Regions from separate parts of the Homo sapiens genome. Here region 2 is linked to region 1. Evidence: fine-mapped expression QTL. Tissue or cell type: whole blood. Region 1 holds a variant in brackets; the other region holds the start of a gene. All regions are shown on one strand. Distances are from middle to middle.

What was found. PIP is the estimated chance that this variant, and not a neighbour inherited with it, causes the effect.
Region 2: it holds the start of DCTN5, and the variant in region 1 is the best candidate, but not a certain one, in a credible set for the expression of DCTN5 in whole blood (INTERVAL, PIP 0.87).

What each region holds. Positions count from the first base shown.
Region 1 is chr16:23,695,157-23,699,408 of GRCh38, reverse strand. ERN2 (endoplasmic reticulum to nucleus signaling 2) reads left to right here. Exons shown (of 22, transcript NM_033266.4): 14 at 3,431-3,515; 15 at 4,020-4,209. Among named protein-coding and RNA genes, the nearest start is that of ERN2, 16 kb to the left of the region's middle. The variant T/G (reference allele first, on the strand shown) is at 2,507.
Region 2 is chr16:23,639,553-23,643,693 of GRCh38, reverse strand. DCTN5 (dynactin subunit 5) reads right to left here and starts at 2,228. Exons shown (of 6, transcript NM_032486.4): 1 at 2,104-2,228; 2 at 671-739. The coding sequence starts at 2,151. PALB2 (partner and localizer of BRCA2) reads left to right here and starts at 2,384. Exons shown (of 13, transcript NM_024675.4): 1 at 2,384-2,584. The coding sequence starts at 2,537. RefSeq lists an enhancer at 1,166-1,955 and a silencer at 3,083-3,317.

The DNA.
Region 1 (4,252 bases):
CTTGATTGGCTCTGGGCTGGCTCATGGTTTTGGTTGTCTTTGTGAACTTGTGCTGGCACCTTCTAGTCACTGCTCAAGCCACTTCCTCATACCTTGGCCCCACCCTGCCGTCACCTTCTCAGGCGGAAGTCTATGCCACACTTGGCTTGATACTCCAGTGCTGTTCGCAATGTCCGCCTCTGTGGTCATTGTGCCTTAGCCCAGAGGAAAACAGCTCCCCTTCCTCAGGGGTCAGCTCTTTTAGAGGGCCCTGCAGCAGGATTTCCTGAGCCCTGAGCTGTTGTAGTTTTTGTCATTTTACTGGCCCTGGGTGGGTCCAAGTAATACTCACCCCACTGTACCCCAAAACGCCCATCTCCCTGGACCTTCGGACTCGAGTTGAGTCTGGCTCATCTTTACCTGGACAACCAGGACTCCATCTTTCCCCAGGATCATTCTTGTCAAAGTCCTCATGGACTATTTTATGGTTCACAAAATTACAGTGGAGTCACAGCCAACTTTCATTTAACTTGAATAAATTTGGCTGGGCACGGTGGCTCATGCCTGTAATCCCAGCACTTTGGGAGGCCAAGGCAGGGGGATCACTTGAGGTCAGGGGTTCGAGACCAGCATGGCTAACATGGTGAAACCACATCTCTACTAAAAATACAAAAATGAGTCTGGTGTGGTGGTGGGTGCCTGTAGTTCCAGCTACTGGGGGGTGGCTGAGGTACAAGAATTGCTTAAACCCAAGAGGCAGAGGTTGCAATGAGCCAAGATTGCGCCACTGCACTCCAGCCTGGGCAACAGAGCAAGACTCCACCTCAAAACAAAACAAAACAAAAAACCCACAAAAAACAAAAACAAAAACTTACACAAATTCATCTACATGTGCTTGGCTGGGCCTCCCTCAGGACCTCTGGCTGCATCATGTATTCAATAACAAGTGGATGCAATCCAGCCTGAACCAGGGATAACATTTCTATAGCGCTTACTGTATACCAGGCTATACCAGGCAGTGTTCTGAATCCTTTGAATGCATTAACTCATGAGATAACATTCCTGTGAGGTGAATGTTATTATAGAATTCTCCTTTTATGGAAGAGGAAACTAAGGCAGAAAGGTCTAGTGACAACTCCCATCCTTACCCCCGGCTCACAAAGCTAATAAGTGGCAGCTCAGGGGTCCAAATGCATGTGGCTGGCTCCAGCAAGTGCCCTAATTTCTGTGGGATGGTGCCCCTGTTTGAACAATACCTGGCAAATACCTGTGAAAGAATGTGACTGACTGTAAGTGTTCCCCAACCTGTGTAGAAGCAGCAGCAAAGTCCATCATGTGTATGCAGGATTTCCAGAGGTAATTCTGACTGTATGCCCTTTCTCCCTGACACGAGATTTTTGATTACTTTAGAATTGAGCTTGGGAGGCTTAGGTGGGAGGATTGCTTGAGCCCAGCCTGGGCAACATAGTGAAGCCCCATCTCTACAAAAATTAAAAATACAAAAAGATTAGCCAGGCATGGAGGCACATGCCTGTAATCCAGCTGCTTGGGGGGCTGAGGCAGGAGGATTGCTTGAGCCCAGGAGTTCGAGGTTACAGTGAGCTATGATCACGCCAGTGCACTCTAGCCTGGGTGACAGAGTGAGCCCCTGTTTCTAAAACAACAACAACAACGACAAAAACTCCCACATTTGCTGCCTCTCCATTATAATTATGCAAAAGGCTAAGCAAAGTGATAACAAATATCTGTGTGTGCAGACTGAGCCTCCCCAGCTCATATATCTGCATTGAAGGCCTTTGTGGCCTTAAGTCTGGCCTGTCTCTTCGAGGGTGCTTCTGAACATCTAATCCAGGAAACTCTAAGCAAGTGTTTACTCCATGCCGAGAGTACTGAGAGCAGACACACAAGAGCCTCTGAGTCCAGCAGAGCCAGTGACACAAAGAGGGCCCAGAAGGGTGACTGTCACCTGCAGTCAGATGAGCAGGGTTTGTTCAAGCAGCTCTGTCCCTGCTCTCTGATCTGCCTGTTTTTCCTATGTGTGGGTGATGTACTTCCAGCAAGGCCCTGCCTGAGCCCATCTACTCCAGAAAGTCCAGTGTATACCAAAGGTACTGCCTGCATCTTACTGACAGATGAGTATGAACTCTAAGCAAATAATCCAGAGGAATGCTAAGGTGCAACTTGGTGTTTTCTCACTGATCCCTAATGCTGATTTTATTATTATTATTATTATTATTATTATTATTATTATTAATTATTGAGATAGGGTCTTGCTGTGTCACTCAGGCTGAAATGTAGTGGCGTGATCTCAGCTCACTGCAACATCTGCTTCCCAGGCTCAAGCCAATCCTCCCACCTCAGCCTACTGAGTAGCTGGATGACAGGCACACAACACCATGCCTGGCTAGTTTTTTTTGTAAAGATGGGGTTTCATCATGTTCCCAGGCTGGTCTTGAACTCAAGTGATCCACCTTTCCCGGCCTCCCAAAGTGCTGGGATTACAGGTGTGAGCCACGGTGCCCAGCCC[T/G]AATGCTGATTTTCATTTACTCTTCCCAGAGCTGATTGTAAAAACTGAAGCTAAAAACTCTTATAAAGTAGAGTGTTCTCAGGACCACCGCACTGCACAACTCTAGGGGTGCCATATATGTTTTGCCATATGAATAGTGCCCGTTGGAGCTGAGCAGGACACAGCCTGCCCAGATTTGCCAGGGTCAGAGTGAGACGTCTCTCACAGGCTGCCCAAAGGGAAGGGCAGTAATTGTCCCAACCTACAGATCTTTGCCCACCTGAGCCGACCCCACCCATCCTAATGGGAAACCGAGGCCTCTAGGGGTACCCCTGCTGCCCTGGAACTAACTCTGGGCAGGTTAGCATCCAATGCCCACTGCTTCTGTCCGGTCCAGTCTTTTTTCTGTGGCTATACTCACTCTCATCACTCTTCCAACTGCCAGAACTCACCTTACCTTGAAGTTGAAGCTGATTCAGTGTCAATTAAAAGGATTCAGTTACAACTGGTGGAGGTGGGCAGAATGGCAGAGGATGTAAAGGGAAAACAAAGCAAAACAAAACAAACCTGTGCAGAAGATGCTGAAAGAGGGAGAGAAATAAAAGAGGATAATATAGCAAACATCACCTCCACCCGTTCTTTCCATATATCCATTTAATCCTCACAATAATATTGTGTGGGCTCTTTAGCTTTAGCTCCCCACTCTACAGATGAGAATACCGAGGGCACAGAAGTGAGGAATTTGCCTAAGTAGACAAAGAATCAGTGGCAGCACCAGGCATTGGATCCAGACAGTCTGGCACTTGGGCCCTTGCTCTTACCCACTGCACCAGGCTGAGCATGGGAGGGTGGAGGCCCAGAAAATGTCAAGGTGAGTCTGGACTGGGCCAGTGGCCGGCAAAGGTGGGCAGAGGCTCCCTGAGTCACCACCCTCCTCTCCCCCAGCTGAGCAACTCACCGTAGTGGGGAAGATTTCCTTCAATCCCAAGGACGTGCTGGGCCGCGGGGCAGGCGGGACTTTCGTTTTCCGGTGAGTGGCAGCCAGGAGCCAAGCTGGGGACATGGCACTCACAGCCCTCGTGGGCACTGTCCCCTGGAGAGACATTCTTTCAAAGACTCCCCGAGGTGGGTACAGGTTGATCCCTCACTCGCCAGTCCTGCTCTTTCCTTTATCTGTTTTTTTTTTTTTTTTTTTTTTTTTGAGTCTTGCTCTGTTGCCCAGGCTGGAGGGCAGTGGTGCAATCTCAGCTCACTGCAACCTCCGCTTCCCAGGTTCAAGCAATTCCGGGCCTCAGCCTTCCCAGTAGCTGGGATTACAGGTGTGTATCACCATGCCCGGCTAATTTTTATATTTTTTTTAGTAGAGATGGGGGTTTCACCATGTTGGCCAGGCTGGTCTCGAACTCCTGACCTCAAGTGACCCGCCCGCCTTGGCCTCCCAAAGTGCTAGGATTACAGGTGTGAGCCACCATGTTTGTCCCTTTATCTGCTTTCCCTGAATGCCCCCCTGCCCCCGCCATCACCCACTTTCCAGGGGACAGTTTGAGGGACGGGCAGTGGCTGTCAAGCGGCTCCTCCGCGAGTGCTTTGGCCTGGTTCGGCGGGAAGTTCAACTGCTGCAGGAGTCTGACAGGCACCCCAACGTGCTCCGCTACTTCTGCACCGAGCGGGGACCCCAGTTCCACTACATTGCCCTGGAGCTCTGCCGGGCCTCCTTGCAGGAGGTGAGTTGCATTGCGGTTCAGGGAGGGTGAGTGGGAAGGTCCG
Region 2 (4,141 bases), 56 kb after region 1:
GATAATTTTATAAGTATTACTTTAGTTTCTACCTTCAAATATTTCATTACCTGTTACACTTTGTGCCCAGTAGTTTAATGCACACTATATCATAAAATAATGTTGGTTCTAGGTACCACTGTATTTTGTTCCTGGCATAAAAGAAAAAAGGTTTTCTGTTGCCTCTTATTGAACCTTTTTGCATTCAAGAGATCCAACTTAGGCTGGGTGCAGTGGCTCACACCTATAATCCCAGCACTTTGGGAGGCCGAGGTGGGTGGATCACTTGAGGGCAGGAGTTCAAGACCAGCCTGGCCAACATGATGAAACCCTGTCTCTACTAAAAATACAAAATATTAGCCGGGCTTGGTGGCAGCTGCCTGTAATCCCAGCTACTCGGGAGGCTGAGGCAGGAGAACTGGTTGAACCTGGGAGACGGAGGTTGCAGCGACCTGAGATGGGGCCACTGCACTCCAGCCTGGGCGACAGAGTGAGACTGTCTCAAAAAAAACCGAAACAAAAAAAAAACAAAAAGGAGATCCAATTTACAAAATAAAAAATTTAAAAACAAGAGAATTAAAAATGTAAACAATAAATAGGAGATATGGCAACATTTTATCTGCCCTGCTGTGGTGACAATTAGCAGAACGCAAGCTAAGGTTTGCAGCCTGGAGCTGGCTTTGTCCCTTACCTTGCCATTGAGAACGATGTTCTGGCTTCCACACAACACTGACTGGCGACTGACTTTGTTCCCAGATGCCTAAAAGAAAACAACGGAAAACCGGGGAAAGCAAACTTAATAGGTTTCTGGACTACAGGTTTCCATCAAGAAAGCTCCCATTTGAGAGAAAAAAACATAAAGTGGGGTGCTGTCCACAATGGAGTGAGTCCAGGATATCAAAAAAGCAATGATGGATTAGGAAACTATGGCTGAGTATGGTGGCTCATGCCTGTAATCTCAGCACTTTGAGAGGCTGAGGCAGACGGATCCCTTGAGGACAGGAGCTCAAGACCAGCCTAGGCAACATAGTGAGACCCCTTCTCAACAAAAAAAAAATTTTTTAATTAGCCGGGCATGGTGGCGCGTGTCTGTAGTCCCAGCTCCTCAGAAGGCTGAGGCTAGAGGATCGCTTGAGCCTGGAAGGCCGAGGCTGCAATGAGCTGTGATTGTGCCACTGCACTCCAGCCTGGGCAACAGAGTGAGAACCTGTCTCAAAAAATAAAAACACAAAGGAAACTAGGGACTCAAGGAATAAACTCATAATTTGAATGTCTATAGCTTGGTGGCATCAGACAGACGCGGATTCAAATCCCACTTCCACGCGTGGGCTTTACGGCCTTAAAACGAGGATAATGACTATGAGTATCAGAGTTGTGAGAAAGCAAAGAAAACCAAAATAACGATAGTAACGTTAATTGACCACTTGCCCTGTTTCCAAGATTTTACAAACATATCATGTACTGATCATAAAGAACCAAATCGGCAGGGTGCGGTGGCTCACGCCTGTAATGCCAGCACTTTGGGAGGCCGAGGCGGGTCGATCACCTGAGGTCAAGAGTTAGGGACCTGCCTGGCCAACACGGTGAAACCCCGTCTCTACCAAAAAATACAAAAATTAGCCGGGCGTGGTGGCGGGCGCCTGTAATCCCAGCTACTCGAGACGCTGAGGCAGGAGAATCGCTTGAACCCGGGAGGCGGAGGTTGCAGTGAGCAGAGATCGCGCCGCGGCCCTCAGGACTGGGCGACAGAGTCTCCGCCCCCCAACCCCCTTCCTCAAAAAAAAAGAACCGAATCGTTTTTAGCGCAAGTTAACAGATACAAAAGGCAGTGTAAAAGGGCCCGAAGTCCGAGCTGTAATTCGTATGAACAGGATGGGACTTGTCCTATCCTCCCGAAGGCACTTTACCCCTATGAGAAAATCAGGAATAAATACAAAAGGCCTCAACTGGCCAAGCGCGGAGTAAACAGCAAAGCCAGACGGTACACGGGGCATCGCTAGATAATCCGGGACTAATGGCCAAAGGGACAGGGGTTGGTGGGGTAGGGGCAGGTTGGGAACGCCGACCAGGCCTCAAAGGGACGCAGGGTTGGAAAGAGGAGGATACATATCTGGACCCGCGCACCGTCTCGATGTACTCAGACTTGTTGTAGAGCAGCTCGCCCAACTCCATGGCCGCCGCCTCCTTCCCTCAGCCCCGGATCCTGTCAGAGTCAGTCGGTCAGTCTTTCAGAGATTCCGGCTACTTCCGGCCGCTCCTCCACTTCCGCTCCAGGTGGCCCACTGGGACTCATCGACAGCGCGGCTCTCCTTTAGGCGGCCTCGCTCCACTGCTCGGCCGTCTACGGCTGCGCGTGCGCAGGCCGAATGGTGGATTTAATTGGCCGGAGTTTAGGGCGCGCTTGGCCCGCGTGGGTCAGCTGATCGCGCACTGAGGGTGCGATCCCGGGCTCCCCATTCCTTCCTGGGGCGCCTCCCCGGCCCAGGGCCAACTGGGTCCCGGTGTCGGCAGGCCTGGGGTCGGCGACGGCTGCTCTTTTCGTTCTGTCGCCTGCCCGATGGACGAGCCTCCCGGGAAGCCCCTCAGCTGTGAGGAGAAGGAAAAGGTGCCGGGGGTGCGGGAAGGGCGGACGCAGGACTCTGACCCCGCTTTCCCAGGGTTTTAGGCCTGGCTTTGTGTCCTCGGCAGTCCGAGGGCAGCAGTATCATCTGACCACCCCCTCCTCTTAGGGCTGAGGGGGCACAGAAAATGAAAATGTGGAAATAGCGTGGTGCTCACGTGGTGGCGTTTAAAGAACAAATTTCATTACAGTAGCAGCGCATTAATACAATGTGTAACAGTTTGTAGATAAAGCTGTATCGACACCCTTGCTCCTCCCCCCTCCCACACCCTCAATCTTTACTTCTCCCCCCGGACGGCCTCAAGTAAATCTTTTAAGTCTGGTACTTCCAGGTCCTTTCGTGTGTTAATGTGGGTGGTGGAGGAGGGGCGTATCCCTAACCACCAAAAAGGAATCCTATGTATATTTTTTGGAGAAGGGAATGTTCATAAATGGTATGATCTGAATGGTTCTGCAGGTTCCGTTTAGCTTTCCTGTCAGGACATGTTTATCTACCTTGCTTTCTTTTTTAAGTTCTAGACAGTATGTTGTAGTTTGGAAGTGCCCTCGTTTTGTTTCTTTTTTCTTCCTTTTCTGTTTTTCTTCTTTTTTGAGACAGAGTCTCACTCTGCCACCCATGCTGGGGTGCAGTGGCGCGATCTCGGCTCACTGCAACCTCCGCTTCCTGGGATCAAGCGACTCTCCTGCCTCAGCCTCCCGAGTAGCTGGGATTACACGAACCCGCCACTGCACCTGGCCTTGGAAGTGCCCTTGCTTCTTTAGACTGTACTTTACTGATAGACTTTTAGGATGTTTCCAGCTTGTGCTGATGTTATTCTTATCCTGGCTTACCTTCTGGTGGAGGTGAGAAAGATCATTTATAAGTAAACAAGATAATCCCCAGACATTGATAAGATTGGTGGGAGGCCAGTCTCCCTGGCTCACGCCTGTAATCCCCGCACTTTGGGAGGCCGAGATGGGCAGATCGCTTGAGCTCAGAGTTTGAGACCAGCCTAGGCAACGTAGTGAAACCCCGTCTCTACTAAAAATACAAAAATTAGCCGGGTGTGGTGACGCCAGCCTGTAGTCCCAGAGGCTCAGGCCTCAGAGGCTGATGCACGAGAATCGCTTGAACCAGGGGACGCTGAGGTTGCAGGGAGCTGCCGAGATCGCGCCACTGCACGCCAGGCTGGACGACAGAGTGAGACTGTCTCTCAAAAAAAAAGAAAATTCCTTACGGTTGGCAACTTGTCTAGTAGCATGTTTTGCACATAGGTTTTGTTTTGTTTGTTTTTGAGACAGACTCTCCGCTCTATCTCCCAGGCTGGAGTGCAGTGGCTCGATCTTGGCTCACTGCAACCTCCGCCTCTCAGGTTCAAGCGATTCTCCTGCCTCAGCCTCCCGAGTAGTTGGGATTACAGACGCCCAACACCACGCCGGGCTAATTTTTGTATTTTTAGTAGAGACAGGGTTTCTCCATGTTGGCCAGGCTGGTTTTGAACTCCTGACCTCAGGTAATCTGCCCGCCTTGGCCTTCCAAAGTGCTGGGATTACAGGTGTGAG